Regions from separate parts of the Homo sapiens genome. Here regions 2, 3, 4, 5, 6 and 7 are each linked to region 1. Evidence: fine-mapped expression QTL. A gene starts in region 1. Each other region holds a variant in brackets. All regions are shown on one strand. Distances are between the middles of the regions. Region 1 holds the start of MED19 (mediator complex subunit 19). Region 2 holds the start of LOC107984365 (cytochrome c oxidase subunit NDUFA4-like). Region 3 overlaps CTNND1 (catenin delta 1). Region 4 overlaps ZDHHC5 (zDHHC palmitoyltransferase 5). Region 5 overlaps CTNND1 (catenin delta 1). Region 6 holds the start of CLP1 (cleavage factor polyribonucleotide kinase subunit 1). Region 7 has its middle 69 kb from the start of CTNND1.

Region 1 (4,065 bases):
AATCTAAATGCCTTTACTGCTTTATAAAAGCCTCTGCCTAACTCTCCCAGCTTCATCTCTCTCCCTAACACTCTTTCCTTTTGTTCACTTCACTGGAGTCCAACTGATTTTCTGTCCCTCAGATATTCTAAGCTTTTTCTCACATCAGGGTTTCTGACCTCATTTCTTGTATCTACAATTGTCTCTCCCTCCTGTCCATACATGGCTGGCCCTTTGTCTATGCTTACATTTTAGTTCAAATGTTAGCTATGTGAAGAGAGCATCTCTGGCCACTCTAGCTAAAGTAGTTCTGCCCCTCAATTTTTTTTTTTTAAGAGACAGGGTCTCATCTGTTGCCCAGGCTGGAGTGCAGTGGCACAATCTTGGTTCACTGCAGCCTCGACCTCCTGTGTTCAAGCGATTCTCCTCCCTTAGCCTCCTGAGTAGCTGGGGCTACAGGCATGCATTACCACGCCCGGTTAATCTTGTATATTTTGTAGAGACTGGGTCTCGCCATGTTGCCCATGCTGGTCTCAAACTCCTGGGCTCAAGGGATTCTGCCTCGGCCTCCCAAAGCGCTGGGATTACAGGCGTGAGCAACGCGCCTGGCCACCTTCAATTTTTATCATGTTTTCTTTTCCTAGCATTAACCACTTTCTGACATTATCTTGTTTACAATGCCTCCTCCACTGAAATGTACATCCCAAAAAAGGCAAGCATCTTGTCAGTCTTGTTCACAACTGTCTCCAGCATTTAGAAAAGTGCTTGGTACATAGGTACTCAACAAAATAATTTTTTGAATGAAGAGTTTGGTTCGATTCTTATCCCTTTTTTGATCAGACCAGGAAATGCCGGAACCTTAGAAGGAAGAATGGCAACTTGCCCCAAACCAATAGCAAGTCTGTGGGAGACCTGTAACTAAAACTTTGGGTCCCCAAAGATATTAAATCAGGCCTCTCGAGTTCCAAACTCAAACCCTGGATTTTGTTTGTTTTGAGACGGAGTCTCGTTCGCCCAGGCTGGAGTGCAGTGGAGCAATGTCGGCTCTCTGCAACCTCCGCCTCCCGGGGTTCAAACGATTCTCCCGCCTCAGCCTCCCGAGTAGCTGGAATTAAAGGTATACGCCACCACGCCCAGGTAATTTTTGTGTTTTTTGTGGAGACAGGGTTTCATCATGTTGGCCAGGCCGGTCTCGAACTCCTGACCTTAGGTGATTCGCCCGCCTCCGCCTCCCAGAGTGTTGGGATTACAGGCGTGAGCCACCGCGCCCAGCCCTAGGTCATTTTTTAGAGAGACATAAACCAGTGTCAGGGACACAGCCTGGACATGGTGCAAAAGACAGTAACGGAGATGCACTACGCCCCTGCCCGCCATTCATCCCTTTGGTTGAATTCAACTCATCCTGGTTGAATTCAAGTCATCCCTCTGCTTGTGAATCCTAACAGCGCTTCCGACTTAGGGCTCCACAGTCCGGGTATGCGTTGCCTAGGTTACCTCGCACCTCCGCTAGCCGGCTGAGAGCCACGCCCATCACCTCCTCTCTAAGATTTGATTGGCTGGCTTTGGCAAGGCCGAGTACTCACCTGGCAGTTCCCTCATGAGGTAAAAAGGGCCACAGCCAGCTCCTGACTTGTCCGCGCCAGGAGGAGCCGTGGCCGCGGTGGGAGGCGGGGCCGTGCCGGGTCCCCCGCCCGCAGGAGGCGGTGGCGGGGGTGGAGGCTTTCCTGGTCCGAAGCCGAGTGCGGTTGGGGGCGGTGGTGGGTCAGCCTGAGCCCCAAACAGTGCCGTGAAATTCTCCATCGTACCCTCCGCCCCGGCGCTGTCTCCGTGTCTGCCGTTGGTAATTTTCATTGGACAATGCTTTCAAGGAGTACCCCCCCGCCCTTTCTCAAGGAGCCGCTTGTCATTGGATGCCTCAGGCACCGCCTACCTTTTTTCAACAACTACTTCCGTCGCCTTATGAGAACGTTCAGGAAGTGCTATTTAACCTTATTAGAGTCTTCTGCTAGCTCTGCTTGCTACAGTCCAATAAAATGACTTAGGCGGATAAAGCGACAACTAGACTAACCAATAAAATATTAAGTTCTTTTTTGGGTTCTGACCTACCACAGCGTTCAGAGAACTACATCCGGGTTTAGAGGCCGTACGTTTGCGATATAGCCCAATAGCAGTCGTTATGGTGGGGGAGGCGGGGCGAGACCTACGACGCCGGCGAGCAGTGGCCGTTACGGCCGAAAAGATGGCGGTCTTGGCACCTCTAATTGCTCTCGTGTATTCGGTGCCGCGACTTTCACGATGGCTCGCCCAACCTTACTACCTTCTGTCGGCCCTGCTCTCTGCTGCCTTCCTACTCGTGAGGAAACTGCCGCCGCTCTGCCACGGTCTGCCCACCCAACGCGAAGACGGTAACCCGTGTGACTTTGACTGGGTGAGCCTCCCGCGTGTTAGTACCCCGCGACCTTGACTGTCCCTGCCCTTGCAGGTGTATCTGGGAACCCTGGGGTTTACCTCTCTGAGGACACCTGAGGTTCCGAGCCTGTAGCGGACTTAGAGACTATTAAGTGCAGGGTCCGAACCATCATCGAGTCTAAACTTTGTGTTTAAGATGGGAAAACGGAACATGTTAGTCGTAGCCCATGCACAACGGCCCAACAGCTTTTGACTGTTGAGTCCAGGTTTCTTTCTGTTTCACCATTGAGACTAATTAACAGCCCTATCAAAACTGTACATACACGTGTATAACGTTTTACAGTGCCGCTCATTATGTAAAGCCTCCTGAGGAGCCAGTAAGGTAGACAAGGCAAGTAGTAATATTCCTGTTTCATTGGTGAAGAAATGGATCTCGGTATATTTAGGTGACTTGCCCCAGGTCATACAACTAATGAGTGCCTGGGACTTGAAACTACTCTTCTGGCCACACTACCTGCACAACACTGTCAGCCGCTTCTTAATTCAATAAACATTTCTAGAGTGTACACTCTAGGCACTCTGCTTGATCCTGAAGATGCGAAAGTGGATAAAATTTGGGGGCTACTGTAAAGGAATTGTAAAAAATACGTTGTAAAGAAATCTTTGGGATTTCTTTGGGAAGTGTCCCAAGCTCCTTGCTGTGCTTCCTTGGTATGGGTGGAGGGACTGCTCGGAACATAAACTTAAAGCACTTTCCCTTCTGCCATATAGCATGTAGGGGCCAAGGAAAAGCTTCCCCTTTGCTCTCTGAGGGTTTGTTGAAAAATCAACCGACAAAGGGCACATTAATAGGAGAAAGGCATAGAAATTTTATTTTAACGTGCATAGCATGAGGGAATTGCAGGAGAATGACCCAGTGGGGTACAGATGCTTATATACCCTCTTTCATAGGAATATGGGAGATGGGAAAATGTGGGTGATTTTAAGGTGGATCGTAAATGATTTTTAGGGTGATTCAGTGGCCTGGAGAACATACAGTGGCCTGGGACAATGACTGTTGGGCCTGCAGAGCAGACAATGGTTTCTGACAAAAATCTGTCCAGGTGTGTTGACAGGCTTCCATCTTTCTTCTTGTACTGAAGTAAGTTAATGAAAACTCAGGGAAGAGACCAGAAGTAATTGTTGTCTTCTTTGACAGGTCTGGACTTTAGGCAGATAAGGTAGTTATCAGAGTAAAGCTGCTTCCAGTATCTGCTGGTTTCCAGGGACCTTTAATTTAAAATGATTAGCATACAGGATGCCATATTTTGGGGTGTGAGTCCCTGGTCTTCTTTATTTCCTTTGTCTGAAACTTCCTTAGAAGTTTCACTATAAGCTGAGTTGGTGTCTGTGGAGAGAGAAATCGGGCTAGTAATTGAGCGGCAAAGGATCCCATTAAACCAGCCTCTCATTTTGGGGGATAGTCCAGTTCAATTAAATTGTTGTGTCTCATTTCAGAAGATGGCATTGTAGATGAGTTCTCAAAGCTAGGCCTCTGTATATGATGTAGGCAAACAGGTATTTAATAAGAGAGACATTTCTATGGAACAAGACAAACAAAGCTTAATATCTGGTATAGTCTATAAACTAGTTTCTTTAGAGTCTGGAGGGCAGTCAATTGGGAAGATTAATAGCAAT
Region 2 (4,065 bases), 160 kb after region 1:
GGAGCAGGTGTGTTACACAGCAAGAAAGGGAGCAAGAGAGAATGGGGAGGAGGTGCCAGGCTCCTTTAAACAACCAGCTCTTGTGTGAACTAACAGAGCAGGAACTCACTCATTACCGTGGGGATGGCACCAAGACGTTCATGAGGGATCAGCCCCTATGACCCAAACACCTCCCACCAGCCTCCACCTCCAACACTGGGGACCACATTTCAACATGAGATTTGGTGGGGACAAACATCCAAACTATATCAAATACCAAGTTAAGTATAAGGCTCCTTCTACAAGAAGCCAAAAAAGGGATTTTGTAGGCATTCTAAAGTTAGTTGCTTTTTCTTTCCTTTTTTTCACGTTTCAGTTATTTATTCATCAGTGTAATGTCCAACGCAGTACACCAGCATGATTTCATGTTTGTGGAGGAGAAATATTTCCTGGTTAAGTGGAAAAGTGTGTGGATGGCGTCTAGAAGATCCTAATTCTAAGCAGCTTTACAGTGAAGCATTTCATTTAGAAATCTGGGCCTTCTTTCTTCAGTTTGCTGTAATCTACATTCACTGAGTAGGACTTGTATTGATCATTGGGACTCAGTTTGTTCCAGGGTTCTGGGTTATTGTTTCTGGCCCAACTAACATCTGGACTGAAAGATGCCAGACACAAGACATACCATGCTGCTCCAGTACTCCCAGCTCCAATAAATATGAAGCAGGATATCAAACTCGGATTCTTCTTGGTCTGACTAAGGGTCTGGTGGGGCATGTCTGCAGCAGAAACCTCTGATTCGAAAGGAGAGAACAAGCCTAGCTAATAGGCTCTGGACTAAGCAGTATCTCTATTTACTTTTTCAATACTTAGTTATCAAATTATATCTTCGTGTGGTATTCTGGAAATTTGCATATGCTGGTGAGATGCCTTCTCATAAGATTCAGCATAGGTTAGAAGCATATATTTCTTGGCTGGGTGTGGTGGCTCATGCCTATAATCCCAGCACTTTGAGAGGCCAAGGAGGGTGGATAACTTGAGGTCAGGAGTTGGAGACCAGCCTGGCCAACATAGTGAAACCCTGTTTCTACTAAAAATACAAAAATTAGCTGGGCGTGGTGGTGTGTGCCTATAATCCCAGCTACTCAAGAGTCTGAGGCAGGAGAATCGCTTGAACCTGGGAGGTGAAGGTTGCAGTGAGCTGAGAGCAAGCCACTGCTCTCCAGCCTGGGGGACAAAGCAAGACTCCATCTCAAAAAAAAAAAAAAAAAAAGCAAAAAAAAAAAAGCATGCATTTCTTTTCAAAAGTGGGAGAAGGGCAATTGTGAAGGGGGAGATGAGAGACAGTCCAGCATTCTCATCACAGAGGTGTTCTCAAGCATGTCAGTTTTAGGAAAGCATAGATATGGACATTGAGGTTCTGGAAACCGGTGCCCTTAGAAGGTCTTGCCTGTGAACCCTTTGAAGAGTCTTCACTTACCCTCAGGGCTACCAACCCTCATTTGAAGACTGTGGCCTTAGAAGAACTAGCCGGCTACTGAAACCTCCAAGACCCTGCCTCCGCCCTTGCTGCCTCTCCTCCCTCCCTCCCAGAGATGGGCCTGTGATTATGTGACTGTAGGAGAATTCAAGAAACATTCCATGCCCTTCGCAGAATGACCGTCTATTTACTGGAAAGGTCAGAATATGTGATCTCAAAAGTCAGGGTCCTGGTGGTGTGGCAGAATCCTATCCGTGATTCACCCTTGACGTTCAACCTAGCACAGTCAGCCTCCTGGCCTGTGCCCCAGTTTCTCCACCCAGATGCCCCATGTATCATTTA[C/T]GCTTATTCTTTTCTACCTTTCTTAGGGGTTTCCTTCTGTTCAAATCTAAATGTCCACGAGTCTCTGATCTACAATGAGTATTATTGCTTTCATTTTTCTCTGATAGGATGACAGACCAGTCCCTTAGGCACGCACATTCACAAAGTCATACTCAGCATTATTATTATTTAAAACAATTTTTTTTTTGAGACAGTCTCGCTCTGTCACCCAGACTGGAGTGCAGCAGCATGATCTCGGCTCACTGCAACCTCTGCCTCCCGGCTTCAAGCAATTCTCCTGCCTCAGCCTCCTGAGTAGCTGGAATTACAGGCACGTGCCACTATGCCTGGCTAATTTTTGTATTTTTAGTAGAGACAGGGTTTCACCATGTTGGTCAGTCTGGTCTTGAACTCCTGACCTCAGGTGGTCTGCCCACCTTGGCCTCCCAAAGTGTTGGGATAACAGGCATGAGCCACCATGCCCAGCCATATATTTAGGCTGAATTCCTGGAATCCAGCAAATAATGTTTCTTGTTTACCTTCCCAATCCCTCTCTTCCACCATCTTCCCACGGCCCAGTACTGCATTCCCTCCTAATCCTCCACTGCTCCCATCTCAACTTCCATATGGCCATTTGATTCCTTCAGAGACACACCTATTAATAATTCTCAATTGTTGTGACCTCGGCAACAGCCTTCCAGGTGTACTTTGAGGTTCCCAAGTGCAGAGTATTTCCAGGTTTCCTCTATCATCCCTCCAGGTCTCCTCAAGCATCCCTCCAGGTCTCCTCTAGCATCCCTCCAGGTCTCCTCTAGCATCCCTCCAGGTCTCCTCTAGCATCCCTCCAGGTCTCCTCTATCATCCCTCCAGGTCTCCTCTATCATCCCTTCCGGCTTCCTCTATAATCCCGCAATGCCATCCCTCAGTCCTTCTAGTAAGACTTCCCTTTCCCCAGTGAGTCCTTGTTTTGTGTGCTGTTGTCATCTGGCAGTTGATTTTTACTCACACACATATTTAGAATTGTGTAACAGGGTCTGTCAATGTTTCTAAGTCTTTCTTCCCTCCTGCATGGTGTTGCTTTGCTTCCCTATCACATAACTTCTGAGAGCAGAGGCTGTTTTAAGCTATATAAGAAGCTGTCAGTGACTATTTGAACAACTACTATAATCTGAAAATATTTGAACAATTGCAGTCGTTCAAAAGGGTTTAAACAATTATGGTTGTTCAAAGTATTTAAACCATCATAGTTGTTCAAAGTATTTAAACAATAGCATAAGACACGGCTGTGGCCACTTAAGATCTTAAAATTTTGTTAAGAGACACACTTGCTTCCATGAAAACGAGTGAAGTTGGGTGGAGCCCACTGCCAGCAGGAACCCATTGAGGGAAGGGTGATTGCAGCTTGGGGTGCTCTGGGGAGACTTCAGGACCAGGAGGCACGGGGCTGAGCCTTGAGGAATGAGAAAGGTGTTGCTAGTTGGAGGAGATGGGGAAGTGCGATCACCTGGAACTGGGAATTAACCTCAGTAAACATTTACCGGGCAAAAGGTGCATTGGAAGGGGTCAGGAAACTTGGCAGAGTTACTTAACCTCTCTGAGCCTCAGTTTCTGTGAGGATTGAAAGACAATGCGTGTCAATGTTGTACTCAGCACACTTCTGGAAACAAGGTAGGTACCTGATGTACATTAACTTCCACCAAGTTAGATTATGCGTACCTGATGAATGGGGAGCTGGAAAACATTGCTCAAGACCGTTGAATACCATGGGATCTCAGGAAATGCTTAAAGGCTGACAGAGTAAGGGATGGTGTGGGTGTGGATTTTGAAGGGAAGGGGAAGAGAACAGGCAACCTCAGCCTTCTGAATCAGCTCTGGTGGAACGCAGTAAAATCTGCAATAGAAAAATACCAACCTTAGCAGATGGTGCTCCCCAGCCCGATATACCTCAAGATGGCTGGGGGGACTCAAGATCCTCCCAGGCCAGCCACGTAGGGGTAGTTCTGGGACTCCCTTCCACTCCAGCCTGTATCTTCAATTTCTCCTCTCTAAAGCTGTTCCTGGGGTAGCCACACATTCAGACTTGATAAGACACACAGCTCAGGCAAACAGGATGTGGCATTCAGGACTGAAGCTACGGTTGCATCTTGGTCCTGCCCAGAGCTTATAAAGCTGGCTTCATCTCCTCTTGATCTCTGGTGGCTCTGGAGGCTTAGAGCTCTGGAAGGTCCTTGAAACACACCACCTCCCTACCTGGGAGGTTCAGGCCTCAGGGAAGAAGAGATTATCTC
Region 3 (4,065 bases), 58 kb after region 1:
TTGCGGGTTTATTCCAGCCTAGGAATTTTCCTTCTCTTTTCCTCCCTTTTCTTCATACTTAAGAACCCATGAAACTAGTGTTCTAAATAGTACTTAAGCCAATTTCTTTGAATAATTTTTTTTTTTTACATTTTTATTTTAAAAATGAGACAGAGGCTGGGCGCGGTGGCTCACACCTGTAATCCCAGCACTTTGGGAGGCTGAGGCAGGCGCATCACTTGAGGTCAGGAGTTTGAGACCAGCCTGGCCAACATGGTGAAAACCTGTCTCTACTAAAGATACAAAAAAAAAAAAATTAGCTGGGCATGGTGGTGCATGCCTGTAATCTGAGCTACTCGGGAGGCTGAGGCAGGAGAATCGCTTGAACCCGGGACCCGGGAGGTGGAGGTTGCAGTGAGCCGATATCATGTCATTGCACCCCAGCCTGGGCGACAGGGCGAGACTCCGTCTCAAAAAAAAAAAAACAGAGAGACAGAGTCTTGGTATGTTGCCCTGTCTCCAACTCCTGGGCTCAAGTGATTCTCCTACTTCAGCCCCTGGAGTAGCTGGGACTACAGGCACACACCACCTTGCCTGGCTATTTAAGCTAATTTCTTTTGGCACTCTGTAGCCTCCCACATTCAGTTCCTCACATTTATTTTACCTATAATTTCTTCTACCAATTCTCCTGTATTTTCTCCTTTTCTTTTGCTTTCCTGTTCTCTGTGGTGTCTTCCTTTGTCTCTCTTTGCCTCCTCTTGCCTCCCCTATCTTTTTTTTCTTTTAGGTTGGGTTTCCTTTTTTTCCCTTTAGGTTTTCCCTTAGGTCTTCATGGGCGTTGCTTTGCCTCACTAACAGTTAACATAAAGACGTATTTCTGTTTCTTGTACCCATGTGCTAAAGGTACAACTGTTAGGATACCACTTCATTTCAGTTAGATCTAGTTTAGGCATACAATTGTAATCCAAGAAGACTGATCTCTTCTAGTGATTCAGATTGGTTTTATCTTTGATTTTTAGATTTCATCTGCATTTCTTGATTAATTACTCATTTTGGTTTAGTTGACAGTTGAGCAAAAAAAAAATTACTTTCTCCGGAGTAAATCATCTGTTTTATTTATGCTTTCTATGTTGTTCTATGTTGTAGTGCAGTAGCACATTAGGAGGTATCTTTGTGGAGTGAAAAGATTTTTGTGGCTGGGCGCGGTGGTGGTTCATGCCTGTAATCCCAGCACTTTGGGAGGCCGAAGGCAGGTGGTTCACCTGAGGTCAGGAGTTTGAGACCAGCCTGGCCAAAATGGTGAAACCCTGTCTCTACTAAAAATACAAAAATTAGCCGGGCGTGGTGGCGGGCGCCTGTAATCCCAGCTACTCGGGAAGCTGAGGCAGGAGAATTGCTTGAATCTGTGAGGTGGAGGTTGCGGCGAGTGGAGATCGCACCACTGCACTCCAGCCTGGGCAACAGAGTGAGACTCCGTCTCAAAAATAAAAAATAAAAAAAAAAAAGAAAGATTTTTGTTACACGGTTGGGCTCGGTGGCTCACACCTGTAATCCTAGCACTTTGGGAGGCCGAGGCAGGCGGATCACGAGGTCAAGAGATTGAGACCATCCTGGCCAACGTGGTGAAACCCTGTGTCTACTAAAATTTCAAAAATTAGCTGGGCGTGGTGGCACATGCCTGTAGTCCCAGCTCCTCAGGAGGCTGAGGCAGAAGAATCCCTTGAACCCAGGAGGCAGAGGTTGCAATGAGCCGAAATCGCGCCACTGCACTCTAGCCTGGCGAGAGAGTGAGACTCCATCTCAAAAAAAATAAAAAAA[T/G]AAAAAAAAAGAAAAGAAAAGATTTTTGTTTTAGGAAGCTCATATTTTAAGAAACTAAAATATATTCTCATGGTTGAGGACATAAGACATTGTTATAGAAACTAGGTCAACTTCTCAATACCTTTATCAAAGCACCTGCAGTTCCCATTTCATTGCAAGTGAAGTAAATCTCATTGAAATAAAGTAGCTGGTGTATATTCAGTACACTTTTAAAATAGCCTATTTTAAAAGAGAAATTGGTGCCAATCTGATTTATTTCCTGCTTTGTTGGAATGGGGGAAGTTCTGTAACCTCATTGCTGTTCTGCTCTCTATTGACTACTTTGTTAACTGGGGCACAGTTGGCCTCTTGGATGTCTACCGTGCTGAAGGTCAGCCAAATAGGCAGGTAAGACTACCTAGGCCTCTTCATAGGCCTAACTAAGATCACAGTTGGAAAAAAAAAAGTATAGAAAAAGAAAAGAAAGTTGTTTTTTTTTTCTAAAATTTAACTTTTTGTATTCATTGAAGAAGGAAGTAAAACATCTCCATTCAAAAGAAATTTGAGAGTCTGTTTATGCCATACACTGAAGTACAACAATAAACAAAATAGACCTACTGTTTGTTCTCAAAGAGCTTACATTCTAGTTGTGAGAGACAAATAATAAGCGAGTAAATATGTAGTATGTCAGAGTGTGGTAATATTATTGAGAAAAAAGTAAAGTAGAATGAGTAGTATGGAGGAAAGAACGTCTCAGGGTGGGGGTGAGGTTATTTTATATAGAGTGGTCAGGGAGGGTCTCATGTGTAAGGTATGTTTGAGAGAGACCAAGAGAAATGGAGGATGGAGTCATGTAGATATGAGGAGTAGGAAGTGCAAAGGCCCTGAGGCTGGTTATTGCCAATGAACAAAAGAGATTGAGGGGAGGGAAGGAGAAGTAAGAGACCTGTCCAGAGAGGACCAATGGGAATGTATTTTGGGGGAAGGGGAATAATGTAGGGTCTTGTTGTATACTATATTGTACAAAGAAAAATTATCTCCACTTCAAACCCCAGAGACAACGGCTGTTACCGAATTTTTGTGTCTTTCTTGTAACTTGAGGTAGCACCTGACCCAACCTCCATATTTCTCCCATTGTGGAATCTCCATGAAAGTATAGTTAGCAGATAATTTGCATAGTAGCAGATTTTGCATAGGTTGATTACCTTTGTCTTAGAGAATGATAATAAGGCAGCTACTTAGAATAAGCTGATATGTTTTTGGGAAGTGGGATCAAAATTTTTCTTTTTCTTTTTTTTTTTTCTTTTTTGATACAAGGTCTGTCTCGGCAGTGTTAACAATCTCAGCTCAGTGCAGCCTCCGCCTCCCACGCTCAAGCCATCCTCCCACCTCAGCCTCCTGAGTAGCTGGGACTATAGGCATGCACTACTACACCCAGCTAATTTTTGTATTTTTTTTTTTTTTTTGTAGAGACAGGGTTTTTCCCTGTTGCCCAGGCTGGTCTCAAACTTCTGAGCTCAAGTGATCTGCCTGCCTCGCCCTCCCAAAGTGCTGGGATTACAGGTGTGAGCTACTGTGCCCAGCCCCCAAATTTTTCTTTCCAAGAGAAATACTGTATATTTCTCCATCTTCTTATCTAACTAGTCAGTTTTCTATAAGCAGGAGTGACAGCCTAGACCTGTACAGTTTCCTTTTGAGGACAAAATTTATTGGTTTGGTTTATGTGCTTTTGACCAAATAGGCTTGCCCCACTTGTCTGCTGCTTCTCCTTTTGCTCATTTGACCAAAAAGCTCCTGTTTCCCCATGCCCTGATTGTTGAGAATTCATGGCTTTGAGGACCCCTTTATAGGTCACCATATCCGTATTTCTGTCTTGCACATTGGGAGAGATGATTATCCCTGAAACTAACTTTCCTTATGTTTGTTTAGGCATTAGAGGTTATTAAAGCACATCCTGAGCCACTTTACCTAGTTGACTTTGGAGTTGAGGAAGAAGCACCAACTATTTAGTGATTTGATGTTCCATGCATATACGAAAGTAAAAGGATATTTGATTGAATACCTATGTCTTGAATCACACACTGTTACTTTCCCTCTTAAGATTTCTGGTTTAGCTGGTCTGTCCCTCAGTGAGAGTCTCTGTCTCGTTCTCTCTCTCTCTCTCTGTCTCGCTCTGTCTCCTCTCTCTCTCTCCCTCTCCCTCTTTCTCTCTCTTTCTCTCACCCGTCTCCTCCTCTCTCTTTGGAGTTTTTAGCCCTGGCTCTTAACCTGGTTACCCTCTGTTCTTTC
Region 4 (4,065 bases), 34 kb before region 1:
GTTTTCACTATTTGGGAGGGAGAGTGTCTGCTGAAGTAACCTTCTACCTCCCAGTTAGTTACTAGACTTCATTTAGGATAACTACTTGGATGCTTATCTATCTTAGTTTAATCTTGTTTTTTGACTGGCAGAGGGGCAGTCCTAGGTAAGTGGGATAAGCCCTCTTTGGGGGAGGTCAGGAGATTGATTCTGGTGAAGTCTGTTAACCTTTGTGGACCTAAGTTCTTCCTGTTTACAGTGAGAACGTTGACCTACAGCAGTTTGTTTAAGCAACATGACCCTTTTTCAAATGAAATCTTATATACAAAAAAAAAAACCAACATAAAAATTAGGGCTGCTCTGGTTCAAGTGAGGCTGGCATATAGAGGCCCAGCCCCTTGGTATCGCCTCTTTACCGTGTAGGATCTCCTGAGACCTAGTGCTCCTGGTAACACCATTTCGAATCACTTTGAATTGTATCTTGTTTAAAGTCTCATCAAACTGTGAATTAGTCCAGTTAAGGTCTTATTTTATCCATTTCTAAAGCTGGTGGGAGGGGGCAGGATAAGATCTCTGCTTCACGTGATTTTTTTTTTTTTTTTTTTTTTTTTTTTTTGAGATGGAGTCTTACTCTGTCGCCCAGGCTGGAGTGCAGTGGCGCGATCTCGGCTCGCTGCAAGCTCTGCCTCCTGGGTTCATGCCATTCTCCTGCCTCAGCCTCCCGAGTAGCTGGGACTACAGGCACCCACCACTACACCCGGCTAATTTTTTGTATTTTTAGTAGAGAAGGGGTTTCACCGTGTTAGCCAGGATGGTCGTGATCTCCTGGCCTCGTGATCTGCCCGCCTCAGCCTCCCAAAGTGCTGGGATTACAGGCGTGAGCCACCACGCCCAGCCCCTATTTTATCCATTTCTAAAGCTGGTGGGGAGGGGGCAGGATAAGATCTCTGCTTCACGTGATTTTTTTTTTTTTTTTTTTTTGAGATGGAGTCTTACTCTGTTGCCCAGGCTGGAGTGTGGTGGTGTGATCTCGGCTCACTGCAACCTCTGCCTCCTGGGTTCAAGCGATTCTCCTGCCTCAACCTCCTGAGTAGCTGGAATTACAGGCGCCTGCCACTAAGCCCAGCTAATTTTTGTATTTTTAGTAGAGTTGGGGTTTCACCATAATGGCCAGGCTGGCCTCAAACTCCTGACTTCAGGTGATCCACCCACCTCGGCCTCTCAAAGTCCTGGGATTACAGTCGTGAGCCACCGCACCTGGCCACTTCACGTGATCTAAGGGAAGGATAAAGTCAGAGTTGTATGGAAATCCATGATGGTCTTTTCAGGCTCCCATCCATTATATAGTTTGCGGCTTTTCAGTTTCTGCCTCAGTCCTCTTCCAACCCTTTTACCCACAGGAAGTTGGCCGACCTCCATGGAGTTCTCTCTGGTCCCCCCTCCCCCGTAACTGCAGAGGTATTAGCACCTGATTTGAGTGGGAGCAGCCTTGTGATTTAGCACATTAATGGAGCAGTGGTTGTGCCTTTTCCTTCTCACATTGTTTTCTTATCCAGGAATAAGTGCCCAGGTCCTACGTCTCACATTCAGCTGGTTGAAAGTCTGGGTACCACAAATCAGGTGTTTTCAGAGAAACTGGGTTGCCCACCTGTAAAGGGAGAAATTGTTTTCTCATGGAATCTTGAGGAAAGGATTTCTAAATGAGGATCCCCATGGGCAGGAAGTGGAACATTCATTTCAGCCTTCTCTCATCAACAAGGAACACTAGTCATATGCTCAAGCAATATGCTAGGCATGGGCAGAATGCATAGACCTATTCTTTAGGAGCTTAGTGTCTCTGTTTTAAGTGTCCTTGAATTCCTAGTATTTCAGATAGGGGAAGGTAGAGGTGGAATAATTGATGATGATGATAATGATGGTGATAGTTAATAATGTTTTCTTTTGTCTTCTGTCCACTGAATGCTCAGTATCAAGCCAGCTAGTTTAAAAAGAATTCTAGCACTTTGGGAGGCTGAGACAGGCAGATCAGGAGGTCAGGAGATCGAGACCATCCTGGCTAACACGGTGAAACCCGTTCTCTACTAAAAATACAAAAAAATTAGCCAGGCGTGGTGGTGGGCGCCTGTAGTCCCAGCTACTCGGGAGGCTGAGGCAGGAAAATGGTGTGAACCCGGGAGGCGGAGCTTGCAGTGAGCCGAGATCGCGTCACTGCACTCCAGCCTGGGTGACAGAGCAAAACTCTGTCT[C/CA]AAAAAAAAAAAAAAAAAAAATTCTAGCGGCTGGGAGCAGTGGCTCACACCTGTAATCCTAGTACTTTGGGAGGCTGAGGCGGGAGGATCGCTGAGCCCAGGAGTTCGAGACCAGCCTGGCCAACATAGTGAGACCTGTCTCTACAAAAAATAAGCAAAGTCAGCTGGTCATGGTGGCATGCACCTGTAGTCCCAGCTACTTGGGAGGGTAAGGCTGAAGGGTTGCTTGAATCTGGGAGGCAATTTTAGTGAGCCAAGCATGGGTGACAGAGCGAGACCCTGTCTCAAAAAAAATGAATTCTAATAACTTTTGAATGAAGATCTTTCTCCTTCATTCTCATGTTTGTACTATGTAGCTGAAGTAACAAGGTTGGAGAGTTTCATGTGGATTACCTAAGGCCTTGCATAGAGAAGTATTAATTGAGGCAGGATTAAAATCCAAAGATTCTTGACTCCTACTTTGTGTTTCTTTCTAAGAACTTAACCATTTTTTTGTAACAGGATGCATTAGGGAGTGCTCTGAAACAGGGTTTCAGGAGTGTGGATATTGGAATCCATTCTCCCAATTTTATTTATTTTTATTTTTTATTTTATTTTGTATATATATTTTGAGACGGAGTTTGGCTTTTACGCCCAGGCTGTCGTGAAGTGGCGCGATCTTGGCTCACTGCAACCTCTGCCCCCCGGGTTCAAGTGATTCTCTTGCCTCAGCCTCCCGAGTAGCTGGGATTACTGGTGCCCACCACCACGCCCGGATAATTTTTGTATTTTTAGTAGAGACAGAGTTTCACCATGTTGGCCAGGCTGGTCTCGAACTCCTGACCTCAGGTGATCCACTTACCTTGGTGTCCCAGAGTGCTAGGGTTACAGGCGTGAGCCACCATACCTGGCCCCACTCTGCCAATTTTATTTGGTCTTGAAAACAGGAGTGCTGAATGGATGGGCAGAAGAACCCGTTCTACCTGAGATGGTATAGGTCTGGTAGTCCTGTCAATGAGTCAGCCAGCCTTCTGGGCTGTGACCACTCCCTAGGCTTTTAGAGCTTTATGATTATTGCCATAGTCTAAGGACGAGCCCCAACATCTCCTGTTCTGAGCTCTGGCCTCATCTTCCATCAAAGGCAACAGATTCAGACAGGCCACTTGGGGTGGTCACCTAGGAATCTGGCAAAGTACCATAGCAACGGAAAGCCTCTCCTTAAATCAAGCAGAATTTGGGATATGGCAAGAACGGGCTCTGCTCACACATGCCTCTCCTTGGTGGGGTGTTCCCTTATAGTGCTGATTGGAAGCAATGGTTCTGTGAATCTAGGAGCAAATATTGTCCATGAAGTTGTTATTTGCATCATTTCTAGATTCTGGCACTGTGGGGGCAGACTTTATTTTGGCAACAGATACTGGAATTCCATTCCAGGATTACACACTTTATCTGGACCAAGTTGATATCCAGAAGGTTGTAGGGTAAAGTTCATCATCCAGGGATAGGTTGGCAGGATCCCCAAGAAACTGAGTTGCTTTGCCTAAAAATGAAACTGGCTGGGCATGGTGGCTCATGTCTGTAATCCCAGCACTTTGGGAGGCTGAGGCGGGCAAATCGCTTTGAGCTCAAGAGTTGAGTCCAGCCTGGGCAACATGGTGAAACCCTGTCTCTACAAAAAATTAGCCGGGCGTGGTGGTGTGCATCTGTAGTCCCAGCTACCCAGGAGGCTGGGGTGGGAGGATCACTGGAGCTCAGGAGTTTGAGGCTGCAGTGAGCTGTGATCTTGCCACTACACTCCAGCCTGGGCAAGAGAGCGAGACCCTGTCTCAAAAAACAAAACTGAAGAAAGAGTCGAGTCAGA
Region 5 (4,065 bases), 74 kb after region 1:
CGACAAGAGCTAGATCCTGTCTCAAAAAAAAAAAAAAAAAATTCCCTAGAACGACATGGAAATGGAGTTTTGCCTGTCATTGTTTTTAGATGGAGAGCATAAATTTGTGACACTCGTTTTGTTGTTGTTGTTTTTGAGACAGAGTCTTACTCTGTCATCCAGGCTGGAGTGCAGTGGCACAATCTCGGCACACTGAAACTTTTGTCTCTTGAGTTCAAGTGATTCTCCTGCCTCAGCCTCCTGAATAGCTGGGATTACAGGTGTGTGCCAACATGCCCGGCTAATTTTTTTGTATTTTAAGTAGAGATGGGGTTTCACCATGTTGACCAGGCTGGTTTCGAACTCCTGAACTCAAGTGATCCTCCCATCTCAGCCTCCTAAAGTGCTGTGATTACAGGCATGAGCCGTGGTGCCCGGCCATGACATTGGTTTTGATTTTATAATGAATAAATAGGAAGAAAGGAGGAGAGCTGCCTTTGAGACTGGCTCTGAAGACAAAATTATTTTTGCAAAAACCCAAAGATTGGTGAACTTCAGAGTTCACATAGGCTATGGTTTTATATATATTAGCTCATTAAAACTAAACCATGAAGAGTAATAGAAATGGAAGCTTACAGGGGTTATAACTTTTCCAAGGTCTCCTAGCTAGTTTTTGGAGGAGCCAAGACTTGGACCCCCAGTCTTTTGACCCCTAATCTGGAGTTTTATTTTGTTTTTCCCTCTAAAAGTGAATAATTCCTGTAGTTTTCAGGTCTGCTGCAAATGAAAGAGGGGAGCCTGGGGAGGCTGGTTTACAAACTTCAAAAACTCCACCAACCACACCCAAGCTCTAGTCCCTGTAGTAGTAACAATATTACTGGCTTTCTGTGCGTCAAGACATTTTTCTAAGCACTTTACATGAAATGCCTCATTTAATCTTCACAACCACCCTGTGTATTTTTATTCCTCCATTTTACAAAAAAGGAAGCTGCAGTTTCGAGTGGTTGATACTTTGCCCAAAGTCATATAGCTAATAAGGATAGATCTTATACTTAAACCCAGGCAGATAACAAAGCCTATACACTTAACCTCTTAAGAATCATAATTCCAAATTGTATTTCTTTAGTCAGTTTACAGTAGAAGAAATCATTCCAGGGACTGTGCTATTGGTAGGTGATTTTTTTGTGTGTGTGTGTGTGTGGGGTACTGAGTCTAGCTCTGTCACCCATGCTGGAGTGCAGCGGCATGATCTCGGCTCACTGCAACCTCCGCCTCCCGGGTTCAAGTGATTCTCCTGCCTCAGCCTCCTGAGTAGCTGGGATTACAGGTGTGCACCACCAAGCCTGGCTAATTTTTTATTTTTAGTAGAGACGGGGTTTCACCATGTTGGTCAGGCCGGTCTCAAACCCCTGACCTTGTGATCCGCTCACCTCGGCCTCCCAAAGTGCTGGGATTACAGGCTTGAGCCACCACGCCCGGCCGGTAAGTGATTTTTTTGTTTTTTGGACCTCCTATCTGGTTAGCACTGTCTAGTTGTTTGGTCCTTCTGGGTATTTGATTTAATTTAACTTCTTTTGGTTGGGAGTTCTTACAGACGAGACTGAGTTTTTATCATTATCATTGCTTGGATGAAGGATCTTTACTATGGACTATGGACTCTGGGTAATAGCAGGAATATCTTTCTAGTGTGGGTGGGATCCAGTAATGTAGGACTTAATGGCTTATTGAGAGTAAAACTAGGTATTCTCAGAAAATCTAGTCTTAAGGGGGAATAACAAGTTTCACTTTATGTTTCCTCAACCCCCTGACTTCAGGAATTCTTTGATTTTTTTTTTTTTTTTTTGGTGAGAGGAAATGTAGTCTATTTAAAAATCTAAGTAAGTGGAGGCCGGCTGCCGTGGCTCACGCCTGTAATCCCAGCACTATGGGAGGCTGAGGCAGGCGGATCATGAGGTCAGGAGATCGAGACCATCCTGGCTGACA[C/T]GGTGAAACCCCGTCTCCACTAAAAATACAAAAAATTAGCCCGGTGTGGTGTCATGCACCTGTAATCCCAGCTATTCGGGAGGCTGAGGCAGGAGAATCGCCTGAACCCAGGAGGTGGAGGTTGCAGTGAGCTGAGATTGCACCACAGCACTCCAGCCTGGGCCACTAAGCGAGACTCCATCTCAAAAAAATAAATAAATAAAAAATGTAAGTGGCAAAGCTGGAAAGGCATTGGGCTGGACTTGTAATTACGACTCCTGACTGTCTGCCAAAGTCAGCTGAAGGTTTGTAGTGTGATCTTTTTGATGCATATGGCATGAGAAGAATCTTTTTTCCTTAAGTCTCCAAGCGATGAGACCATTTACTGTAGCCTGCCTAACAGCTTCATTCTTTCCCCACTCATACATTCCTTTTCCTCCCATTTTTTTTCTGTTTTCTCACTTCTATGTAGATATTATGGGTAACTCTTGAGCCTAAAAAAACAAAGTAGAACCCTTTTCTTTCCCTGTTTTCCTGTGATAGTTGAGAAGAAAGCTCTCAAAGGTTGTAGAGGAGAGGCTCTGGACCATCCATCTGGTACTGACTGCACTTCTATTTGGACTTGACACCATGGCATAGAAAGAGAACACAGGCTTTGGAATGGCATAGACCTGGGTTTAAATTCAAAATTTGCTATTAACTGTGAGACCTTGGGTAGTTTCTTCACCCATGAGTCTTATTTGCAATAAAACTTCCTTAGGGTTGTTGTAAGGATTGCCAAGATAGTAAATGTAAAACATTCAGTAATCATTAGTTTCACATTCCCTTTCTCCAAGGTAATAAATTGTTAAGGCCTCAAATACAGAATCAAGAACTTATTATGACAGATGTGTAATGATGTGATGACTTCCAGGCACTAGAGAAGTGTCCTTTGTCCCAGAAACACTGGTATAGGTGGGACGTTCTAGTAAATAGATTAGGAGTAGGGAAACCAGCCCATTCACTCCTTAGAACCTAGTTATGTTTTTGATCCAGTTGATTTCATCTACTAGTTCACAAAATAGTTTGAGGCTGAGACATTACGGTGAAGTAATGTAATTGGAAGTGTTAAACCAACTTTTGAAACAACTTAATACCTGACATTTGTATATAACATACATTGTCTCACCTAATCCTCACAACAACTCTGAGTTAGACCGGGCTAATTTCCTAACTCCTGGGAAGCAGCAATTTTTTTTCTTTTTCCCCAATTTGGTTCCTGGAAACGGGGCAAATGGATTTGGCATCTTACAAGTGAGAATATGACAGGGTTTACTGCCATTGTTGGGTAGTAGTAGAGCCAGAACTGGGACCAGTCTTCTTGAGTTGTGTTCTATCCCATATGGCCTCTGCTTCTGTCCTTTTTCAGGCAGAATATCTCCCCATGCTTTTAGACCTAGGAATCTGATCTTTTTGTGTAATTGTGCTGTCTTCTTTTCCAAATTAGAGCCAGGTGGTCAGCTTTAAAGCTGTGAAGATGGTGGAAGCTAATGTTTCTCCAGATACTGCTTTCTGACCTAGAGCCCTGAGTATTTTTCCTATCTCCCTTCCTAACCTTCTTCACTGAATTTAAGTTGCAGGGCCATTTATGGCCATCTATACACTTTCTCTTTGCAGCAGGGAATGTCACTGTATCCCCCGTGGTAGCAGTAATTTGGGCTTTTATTAGCAAAGAAGATTATAGGGTGGATGCTGCTGGAGTGGTAATTGCACTTCAGACCCTGTTGAAATTCAGTAACTGGAAGAATCTCTTTTTGAGCTCAGAGTCCTCTTGGTGTGGAAGGTTCATAGGTCATTGTACATAGTGGATAAGGGCAAGTACTTAAGAAATGGAGATGAAAGGGGAGCACCTTTTTTTTTAAAATAAGGGTGCTTATTCAAGAAAGACCTTTGAGTGGCCTGTTGGAATGTAGGGTGGGAATATGAGAAAGTGGCAATGGGTTTTGGACTGAAAGGAAGAAGAGTTGATAGGCGATTATGGGAACTTCGAGCTGGGGTAGGAGGAATTTAGGGAAGGGCAACCACGTTCTTTAAACTTAGGGACTGGATTGATTCAGGAGTTTATTGGACACTTACTTATCAGTT
Region 6 (4,065 bases), 55 kb before region 1:
AGACAGAGTCTCGCGCTGTCGCCCAGGCTGGAGTGCAGTGGCAGGATCTCAGCTCACTGCAAGCTCCGCCTCCCGGGGTCAGGCCATTCTCCTGCCTCAGCCTCCCTAGTAGCTGGGACTACAGGCGCCTGCCACCACGCCCAGCTAATTTTTTTGTATTTTTAGTCGAGACGGGGTTTCACTATGTTAGCCAGGATGGTCTCGATCTCCTGACCTCGTGATCCACCCACCTCGGCCTCCCAAAGTGCTGGGATTACAGGCGTGAGCCACCACGCCCTGCCTTAAATGTGATTTTTTTTGTGAGACAGAGTCTCACTCTGTTGCCTAGGCTGGTGTGCAGTGGCGTGATCTCAGTTCACTGCAACCTCCGCCTCCCCGGTTCAAGCGATTCTCCTGCCTCAGCCTCCCAAGTAGCCGGGATTACAGGCGCCCGCCACCACGCCTAGCTAATTTTTGTATTTTTAGTATAGATGGGGTTTCACCATGTTGGTCAGGCTGGTCTCGAACTCCTGACCTCAGGTGATCCGCCCGTCTCGGCCTCCCAAAGTGCTGAGACTGCAGGCGTGAGCCACCGCGCCTGGCCTAAATGTTTACTATTATTATAACCGGACTCAGAAACTCTGGGTTTGAGTCCTAGCTCTACCAATGGCTGTTAATGTTTGGGCAAACCTCTGCACCTATCTGAGTCTCCTCCCCCATCTGAAATTGGATATAATAAAGCTGTCTTTACAGGGTGGCTGTGAAAGAAGATGCCTGAAAGGGATCTGAAAAATGTTAAGTATTGCACGAATGAATGATATTATAGCCCCTTCCGCCCCAGCCTATAATAAAAACGTAAAAGCTGATATCAGATTTTTTTCTATATTACAGGCATTGTACTTAGTACTTTACAGGCACATTCCTGCAATCGTCAAAACAACTTTAGGAGGTTGGGCACTGTTATTATCCCAACTTTGCAGACAAAAAACGATATCACGCTTGAGCCCAGGAGGTCGAGGCTGCAGTGAGCCATGTTCGCGGCACTGTACTCCAACCTGGGCGAGAGAGTGAGACCCTGTCTCAAAAACAAAAAGAAAAAAAAAAACGATCTCAGAGAGATGAAGCCTGTGATTTGCTCAAAGTCACACAGTAATGTAAGCAGTATAGCAAATAATATAAGATTCCAAAGCCCAAGGTAGTAAAAAGAGGATTATAGACGTGGTGGAACCTGTTGGCTGCGGGGCAAATGACTGACCTGTAACTGTCAGGGATTTATGGAGGGAAATGAGTGCCTAACAAAAATCCTCGTTTAGTGGGAGAGAGGTTGTTGGGTAATGACTGACTTGTAGCTGGAAGAAATCATCGGATTTTTATTCTTTTATTAAAGAAAAAAAATTTGAAATGCCTTCCATGTGCCAAGCACTGTGTCAGGTGGGAGATGACAGCTTGGTGAAACCTCTGTCAGGCTGTCTTCCTCCGCTTTCTCTATCCCTGGGTTTCCCCCTGCCTAAAAAGGATTTTGTGCTTCGTGGCTTGTCCAGGCAAGCAGGCCGTCGCGGGACCTAGACCGAGACAGTGAGTCTCTCTTTCTCCCGGGCCTCCCTTCTGTTTCCTGGGCTGCAGGGGAGCAGGAAATCTGGGGCGAGATTCCCGCCGCGGACGCGCACTGCCGAAGCCTGGTCCCTCGACCTGTCCCTGCCCAGCGCGGGGGCGCAACCGCCACGCCTCCTCACCCCTCCCTCCGGCTGCACGAATAATGACAACAGCCGCCCCTCCCACCTTTGGCGTCACGTTCAAAACAATCCTTTGACTACAACTCCCAGAAGGCCGAGCGGCTTAGCGAGTGCACCCGCTCTCGGCTGCTCCGGCAAACTACACATCCCAAA[G/T]GGCAGCGCGCGACCGCGTGTCCTTTCACAGCGCAAGTGCGGAACTGCGTTTGTTTCCGGCGTGGGTCCGGGCAAGAACCGCTTGTAGTTTGGTTTAAATTCTGCACGGGAGGACCTTCTGAGTTTACCTGTTGGGCTCCTGGCTGCGCAGGTGAGTTAAAAAAAGGGCAGGAACACAACTGTCACCTCCTTGGGGTCTGGGGACATTTTGGTGTCTGGGGAGATTTTGGTGTCTTGGGGAGATTTTGGTGTCTGGGAAGGTTGGGACAAATGCTGGAGCTAGAGCTGCAGTCCAGGATCAGAAATAATTCATATCGTTTCCTTGCCGTTTTCTAGTTTACGAAGTGCTTTTTTTTCCTCCCACAATTCCTGTAAACCCCAAGAACAACACTGTATTTGAGGAAGTGTAAGTGCTTCCAGTCGACAGCTTCAAAGGTTCAGAGAAGTTAAGTGATTGTCTAAAGACACTACTAGTAGTTACAGAGACGAGGATTAGGCTGTTTTCTGAGTTCAGACCCGGTGTGCTCTGCTTTGCATCCGTATTTCAGACGCCCTTTCCTGTTGACTAGGATGATTGGGGTCAGGGCATCTGTTACCTTCTCAAGTTTGGAGTTTACCAATAGAGTGATGGAGGGTGATATAATTAAATCTTCTGTCAGTCTGTAGGTATGGTTTTTCTCTGATGTCTGAGACATTAATTCACTCAATGTATTGAGGTGCCTACAGTCTGTCAAGCTGTATTCTAAGCAGTATATAGTATCAAACAAAAATGCCTAAGTCTTACATTTTGGGGTGGAGGAGGCGGGGAAGACACAATATATAGTGAGACCGATGGTGATAAGAAATATGGAGAGAATTAAAGCAAGGTAAGGGGAAACATTCATTGTATGTTTTTATTATTTATTTATTTATTTGTTTATTTTATTTTATTTTTTTTTGAGACAGAGCCTTGGTCTGTCACCCAGGCGGGAGTACAGTGGCATGATCTCGCCTCACTGCAACCCTGCAACCTCCACCTCCTGGGTTCAAGCGATTCTCCTGACTCAGTCTCCTGAGTAGCTGGGACTACAGGCGCCCACCATTATGCCTGGCTAATTTTTGTATTTTTTAGTAAATACTGAGATTTCACCATGTTGGCCAAGCTGGTCTTGAACTCCTGACCTCAGGTGATCCACCCACCTTGGCCTCCCAAAGTGCTGGGATTACAGGCGTGAGCCACCAGGCCTGGCCAATATTTGCATTTTTTCTACAGACGGGGTTTCACCATGTTGCCCAGGCTGGTCTTGTACTTCTGAGCTCAGGGGATCTGCCCAACTCAGCGCCCCAAAGTGCTGAAATTACAGGCCTAAGCCACTGTGCCTGGCCCATTGGATGATTTTTTTTTTTTTTTTTGAGATGGAGTCTTGCTCTGTTGCCCAGGCTAGCATGCAGTGGCACAATCTCGGGTCACTGCAGCCTCTGCCACCTGGGTTCAAGCGATTCTCCTGCCTTGGCCTCCCAAAGAGCTGGGATTACAGGCACCCTCCACCATGCCCGGCTAATTTTTTTTTTGTATGTTTAGTAGAGACAGGGTTTCACCATGTTGGCCAGGCTAGTCTTGAACTCCTGACCTCAAGTGATCCAGCCACCTCGGCTTCCCAAAGTGCTGGGATTACAGGCGTGAGCCACCATGCCTGGCCCCATTGGATGTTTTTGTAACAGAAGACTGACTTATAATTAGATCTGATATTTAATTTGTGTTCTAGGCACAGCAGCTACACAGAAGAGATGGGAGAAGAGGCTAATGATGACAAGAAGCCAACCACTAAATTTGAACTAGAGCGAGAAACAGAACTTCGCTTTGAGGTGGAGGCATCTCAGTCAGTTCAGTTGGAGTTGTTGACTGGCATGGCAGAGATCTTTGGCACAGAGCTGACCCGAAACAAGAAATTCACCTTTGATGCTGGTGCCAAGGTGGCTGTTTTCACTTGGCATGGCTGTTCTGTGCAACTGAGCGGCCGCACTGAGGTGGCTTATGTCTCCAAGGACACTCCTATGTTGCTTTACCTCAACACTCACACAGCCTTGGAACAGATGCGGAGGCAAGCGGAAAAGGAAGAAGAGCGAGGTCCCCGAGTGATGGTAGTGGGCCCCACTGATGTGGGCAAGTCTACAGTGTGTCGCCTTCTGCTCAACTACGCAGTGCGTTTGGGCCGCCGTC
Region 7 (4,065 bases), 120 kb after region 1:
TGACTTTTTAAAATAACATGATTTAACACGGCAGATTACGGAATTAAAATTCTTGCCTCTCTTTTATGTCACTCCCCAGGAATAACTACTCTTAACCATTTGTTACATATCCTTTCAGATATCTTTCTCCAAGTGCTTATTCAACAAAGACTTCTTTTTTATTTTTTATTTTGAGACAGAGTCTCGCTCTGTCGCCCAGGCTGATTTCCGCTCACTACAACTTCTGCCTCCCAGGTTCAAGTGATTTTCCTGCCTCAGCCTCCCAAGTAGCTGGGATTACAGGTGTGGGCCACCATGCCCGGCTAATGTTTGTTTTTAGTAGAGATGGGGTTTCTCCATGTTGGCCAGACTGGTCTCGAACTCCTGACCTCAAGTGATCCACCTGCCTCAGCCTCCCAAAATGTTGGGATTACAGGTGTGAGCCACCATGCCCAGCCACAAACATTTATTTCTAATGGAATGTATGATGTACATATTCTGCAATTTTGTTTTTTTCCCATAAAGCATGTCATGGACATCTTTCTACCATAGTGCATATTAGTCTTCCTTGTTTTCCTCGTGATTGCCTATTTTACCATTATAAGTCTGTGCCATTTTAGACCTGGTATCTTCCTGCTTCTGGGCAATCTTTTTGTGGCCAACATGGAAGTCTATAGCCCACTTAGGAGACATTTTTCCCAGTATGGAACCTCAGTCCAGAGCCCATGATCCTGTGGTTAGGATGAGCAGACAGTATGGCCGCTTTGCCCCCTCTCTGGACAATTCAGCCTTATCAGCCTCCAACTCACTTCCCCAGAGGATTTGGAAATATGCTTCCTACTGCTCTGTGCCCCTGGGCAGAGATGCTAAGTATCCTGTCCACCCCTTCCTTCGGAACATAACACAGAGGATTTTTGGCTTTTTAAACCTGCATCTTATCTGAAGGTAGGGATTGCTCTGCCTGCCATCCCAAAGCCTACAGTCCTGACACTGTGAAATGAGTGCAGAGGAAGGAGGTGGAATGCAGTTGGCTTTGAGTCCTAGCCAGCCGTTTGAAGGCTACAGCCTGCTTCTAACTTGTTTCTGATGGAATTCCCAGGAATGACCCTGGCTCAACCTGATTCTCATCATGTCTTCTCTGTACTTTGGAGAAATCAGGTCCCAAACTCTCCTTTCTGGGCCTCTCTAATGTCTGACTGTGGACATTCAGTATCTCAGCTCTGACTTCGCCTTTACTTCCTGTAGAGTGTCTTGAATTCTGGTAACTCATATTCTTGTGATGGTACCTCATTGCCAGTTGCTTTGTAACCTGCATTCCATAGTGTTGCTTACATGAAACTGACTTAAAAAGTGAAACCCTGACCCCATCAGTACTGTCACTCATCACTTAATCACAAGGATATGTTCTAAGAAATGCATCGTTAGGCAATTTCATTGTTGTGGGAACATCATAGAGTGTCCTTATGCAAATCTAGATGGTACCATTTACTACACTCCTGGGCTATGTGGTATAGCCCACTACTCCTAGGCTACAAACCTGTACAGCATGTGTGTACCATTATTATAGTAATAATGAATACTGTAGGCAATTGTAATATGGTAAGTATTTGCACGTCTAAACATAGAATGTTTACCTGCATAGGGTACTTACGTGAATGAAGCTTGAGAACTGAAAATTGCTCTGGGTGAGTCAGTGAGTGAGTGGTGAGTGGATGTGAAGGCGTAGGACATTACTGTACGCTTGGGCTACACTAAATTTATAAACCATTTTTCTTCAGTAATAAATTAGCCTTAGCTTACTATAGCTTTTCTTCACAAACTTTAAAAATTTAAAAAAAAACTTTTGACTCTTTTGTAATAACAGCTTAAGACAAACACATTGTACAGCTGTACAAAAATATTTTCTTCTTCCATATCCTTATTCTATAGCTATTTTCTATTTAAATTTTGTTATTTTACTT[TA/T]AAAATTTTTTTTTTTTGGTTAAAAACTAAGACATAATTCCAGCACTTTGGGAGGCCAAGGTGGCAGGATAGCTTGAGATCAGGAGTTCAAGACAAGGTTGGGAAACATAGCAAACCCTGTCTCTACAAAAAAAATGAAAAAATTAGCTGGGAGCAATGATGCACTCCTGTAGTCCTAGCTTCTTGGGAGGCTGAGGCAGGAGGGTCCCCTGAGCCCAGGAGTTCCAGGTTACAGTGAGCCACTGCACTCCAGCCTGGATGACAGAATAAGACCCTGTCTCTCAAAATGAATCAATCACACAAAGAAGCCAAAAACTAAGACACACACACACACGTGTTAGCTTAGGCTTACATGGGGTCAGGATCATCACTGTCTTTCACCTCCATATTGTGTCTTACTAGGTCTTCAGGGGCAATAACGTGCATGGAGCTATCATCTATGGCAATAATGCTTTCTTCTGGAAGATCTGCTGAAGAGACCTGCCTGGGGCTATTTTACAGTTAACCTTTTTTTATTTTTGAAACAGTGTCTTGCTGTCTCGCCCAGGCTGGAGTGCAATGGCACGATTTTGGCTCACCGCAGCCTTGAACTCCTCAGGCTCAGGCGATCCTCTCATCTCAGCCTCCTAAGTAGCTGGACTACAGGTGCATGCCACCATGCCAGGCTAAGTTTTGTATTTTTTTTGGAGAGACGGGGTCTCACCATGTTGCCCAGGCTCAGGCTGGTCTTGAACTCCTGGGCTCAAGCAATCCTCCTGCCTTGGCCTCCCAAAATGCTGGCATTTCAAGCGTGAGCCACCCTGCCTGGCATAGTTAACTTTTTTTAATAAGTAGGAGGAATATACTCAAAATAATAAAATATAGTAAATACATAAACCAATAACATAATCATTCATTATTATCAAGTATTATGTACTGTACATAATTGTATGTGCTATACTTTTATATGGCTGACAGTGCCGTAGGTTTGTTTACACCAGTATCACCACAAATACATGAGTAATGCATTGTGTTATGATACTACAACCGTTATGATGCCACTAGTGATGGGAAACTACTTCATACAGATGCTAGGGCCTAAGGCTATTCCTGTCTTTGAGGAGCTCTGATCCCAGGGATGAAGGCAGTAAATTCATTAATGAGGTAAGCATTACTATAATGATTTCTTTTTAACATTTAGAAGATGGTTGACTTCTGCCAGGAAGGAGGGCAAGGCTTCACTGAGGTGACATTTTGGTTCGTTTGAAAGGATAATTAGGATTCCATCAGTTGGAGAAGGTGTGAAGTCATTCAAGTCAGATAGAATAATGTGCAAAAGTACAGAGGTATAAAAAGAATGCTGTTCATTAGGTGTCCACATAGGCAAGAGGAAGTTTCTCTTTATAGAAACATTTCATCTCATAATTGAAGGTGTGATTGAAATATAATATTATCATTTTGCAATCCCTAATAAAGGGATCTTAGGCATTGAGCATCAACAGCTGCTAACATCACAAAAAGAGATCTGTATCACCTATGAAGTAGTTTAAAAAAATATCAAGCCTGAGTCTGATCAAACTTGTAGATCCAAATACTATTTTATAGGAAACACAGAAGATGGGGGCAATGTTTAACTATACCATAAGGATGTAACTAGCAACATGGGAGGAATTACAAATGACCCAATTTCTTTAATAAATTAATTGCAAGAAGAAAAAAAGTGGAGACAGACCTATAGATTAAAAAATATCAGTCTCAATGCATGCGTCTTATTTGGATTCTAACATAAAGAGGACATTTTATGAGACAATTGGAAATTCGAATACTGGATATTTGATGTTACTCAGGGATTATTATTTTTAGATATGACAGTGGTATCATGGGTTATGATTAATTCATTGTAAATTCGAGCAATGTACTGAAATTTTAATGGATAAAATGTTATGATGAGGAAATTTGCTTCTAAGTAGTATGGGAGAAGAGTAGATGAGGCTATAAGTGACACAATTGGCTATGGGTAATTCAAGCTGGGGTATGGGTACACCAAGTTTCATTATAGTATTTTGTTTGATTTTTCTGTATATTATTTAAAATTTAAAATTAGAATTCCCTGTAATAAGTTTTTTAAAAATGGTATATTTGGGA

The links.
Region 2: its variant is fine-mapped to the expression of MED19 in thyroid (GTEx, PIP 0.98). The same link has a PIP of 0.9 or more in whole blood.
Region 3: its variant is fine-mapped to the expression of MED19 in lung (TOPMed, PIP 0.93).
Region 4: its variant is fine-mapped to the expression of MED19 in whole blood (INTERVAL, PIP above 0.99).
Region 5: its variant is fine-mapped to the expression of MED19 in whole blood (TOPMed, PIP above 0.99).
Region 6: its variant is fine-mapped to the expression of MED19 in whole blood (TOPMed, PIP above 0.99).
Region 7: its variant is fine-mapped to the expression of MED19 in lung (GTEx, PIP above 0.99). The same link has a PIP of 0.9 or more in esophagus muscle.

The regions. Positions count from the first base shown.
Region 1 is chr11:57,710,401-57,714,465 of GRCh38, forward strand. It overlaps MED19 (mediator complex subunit 19), which reads right to left and starts at 1,815. Exons shown (of 5, transcript NM_001317078.4): 1 at 1,563-1,815. The coding sequence starts at 1,779. TMX2 (thioredoxin related transmembrane protein 2) reads left to right here and starts at 2,193. Exons shown (of 8, transcript NM_015959.4): 1 at 2,193-2,407. The coding sequence starts at 2,219. It overlaps TMX2-CTNND1 (TMX2-CTNND1 readthrough (NMD candidate)), which reads left to right and starts at 2,123. Exons shown (of 21, transcript NR_037646.1): 1 at 2,123-2,407. RefSeq lists a silencer at 1,446-1,785.
Region 2 is chr11:57,869,819-57,873,883 of GRCh38, forward strand. LOC107984365 (cytochrome c oxidase subunit NDUFA4-like) reads right to left here and starts at 776. Exons shown (of 1, transcript XM_047427966.1): 1 at 505-776. The coding sequence starts at 753. The coding sequence ends at 505. The variant C/T (reference allele first, on the strand shown) is at 1,799.
Region 3 is chr11:57,768,871-57,772,935 of GRCh38, forward strand. The region is part of intron 1 of CTNND1 (catenin delta 1); the gene reads left to right. The region is part of intron 2 of TMX2-CTNND1 (TMX2-CTNND1 readthrough (NMD candidate)); the gene reads left to right. Among named protein-coding and RNA genes, the nearest start is that of CTNND1, 9.1 kb to the left of the region's middle. The variant T/G (reference allele first, on the strand shown) is at 1,798.
Region 4 is chr11:57,676,345-57,680,409 of GRCh38, forward strand. All of the region lies in intron 2 of ZDHHC5 (zDHHC palmitoyltransferase 5), which reads left to right. Among named protein-coding and RNA genes, the nearest start is that of ZDHHC5, 10 kb to the left of the region's middle. The variant C/CA (reference allele first, on the strand shown) is at 2,226.
Region 5 is chr11:57,784,387-57,788,451 of GRCh38, forward strand. The region is part of intron 1 of CTNND1 (catenin delta 1); the gene reads left to right. The region is part of intron 2 of TMX2-CTNND1 (TMX2-CTNND1 readthrough (NMD candidate)); the gene reads left to right. Among named protein-coding and RNA genes, the nearest start is that of CTNND1, 25 kb to the left of the region's middle. RefSeq lists an enhancer at 1-370. The variant C/T (reference allele first, on the strand shown) is at 1,963.
Region 6 is chr11:57,655,845-57,659,909 of GRCh38, forward strand. CLP1 (cleavage factor polyribonucleotide kinase subunit 1) reads left to right here and starts at 1,918. Exons shown (of 3, transcript NM_006831.3): 1 at 1,918-2,016; 2 at 3,611-4,065. The coding sequence starts at 3,633. RefSeq lists an enhancer at 1,392-1,561. The variant G/T (reference allele first, on the strand shown) is at 1,866.
Region 7 is chr11:57,828,986-57,833,050 of GRCh38, forward strand. No RefSeq gene overlaps it. Among named protein-coding and RNA genes, the nearest start is that of CTNND1, 69 kb to the left of the region's middle. The variant TA/T (reference allele first, on the strand shown) is at 1,941.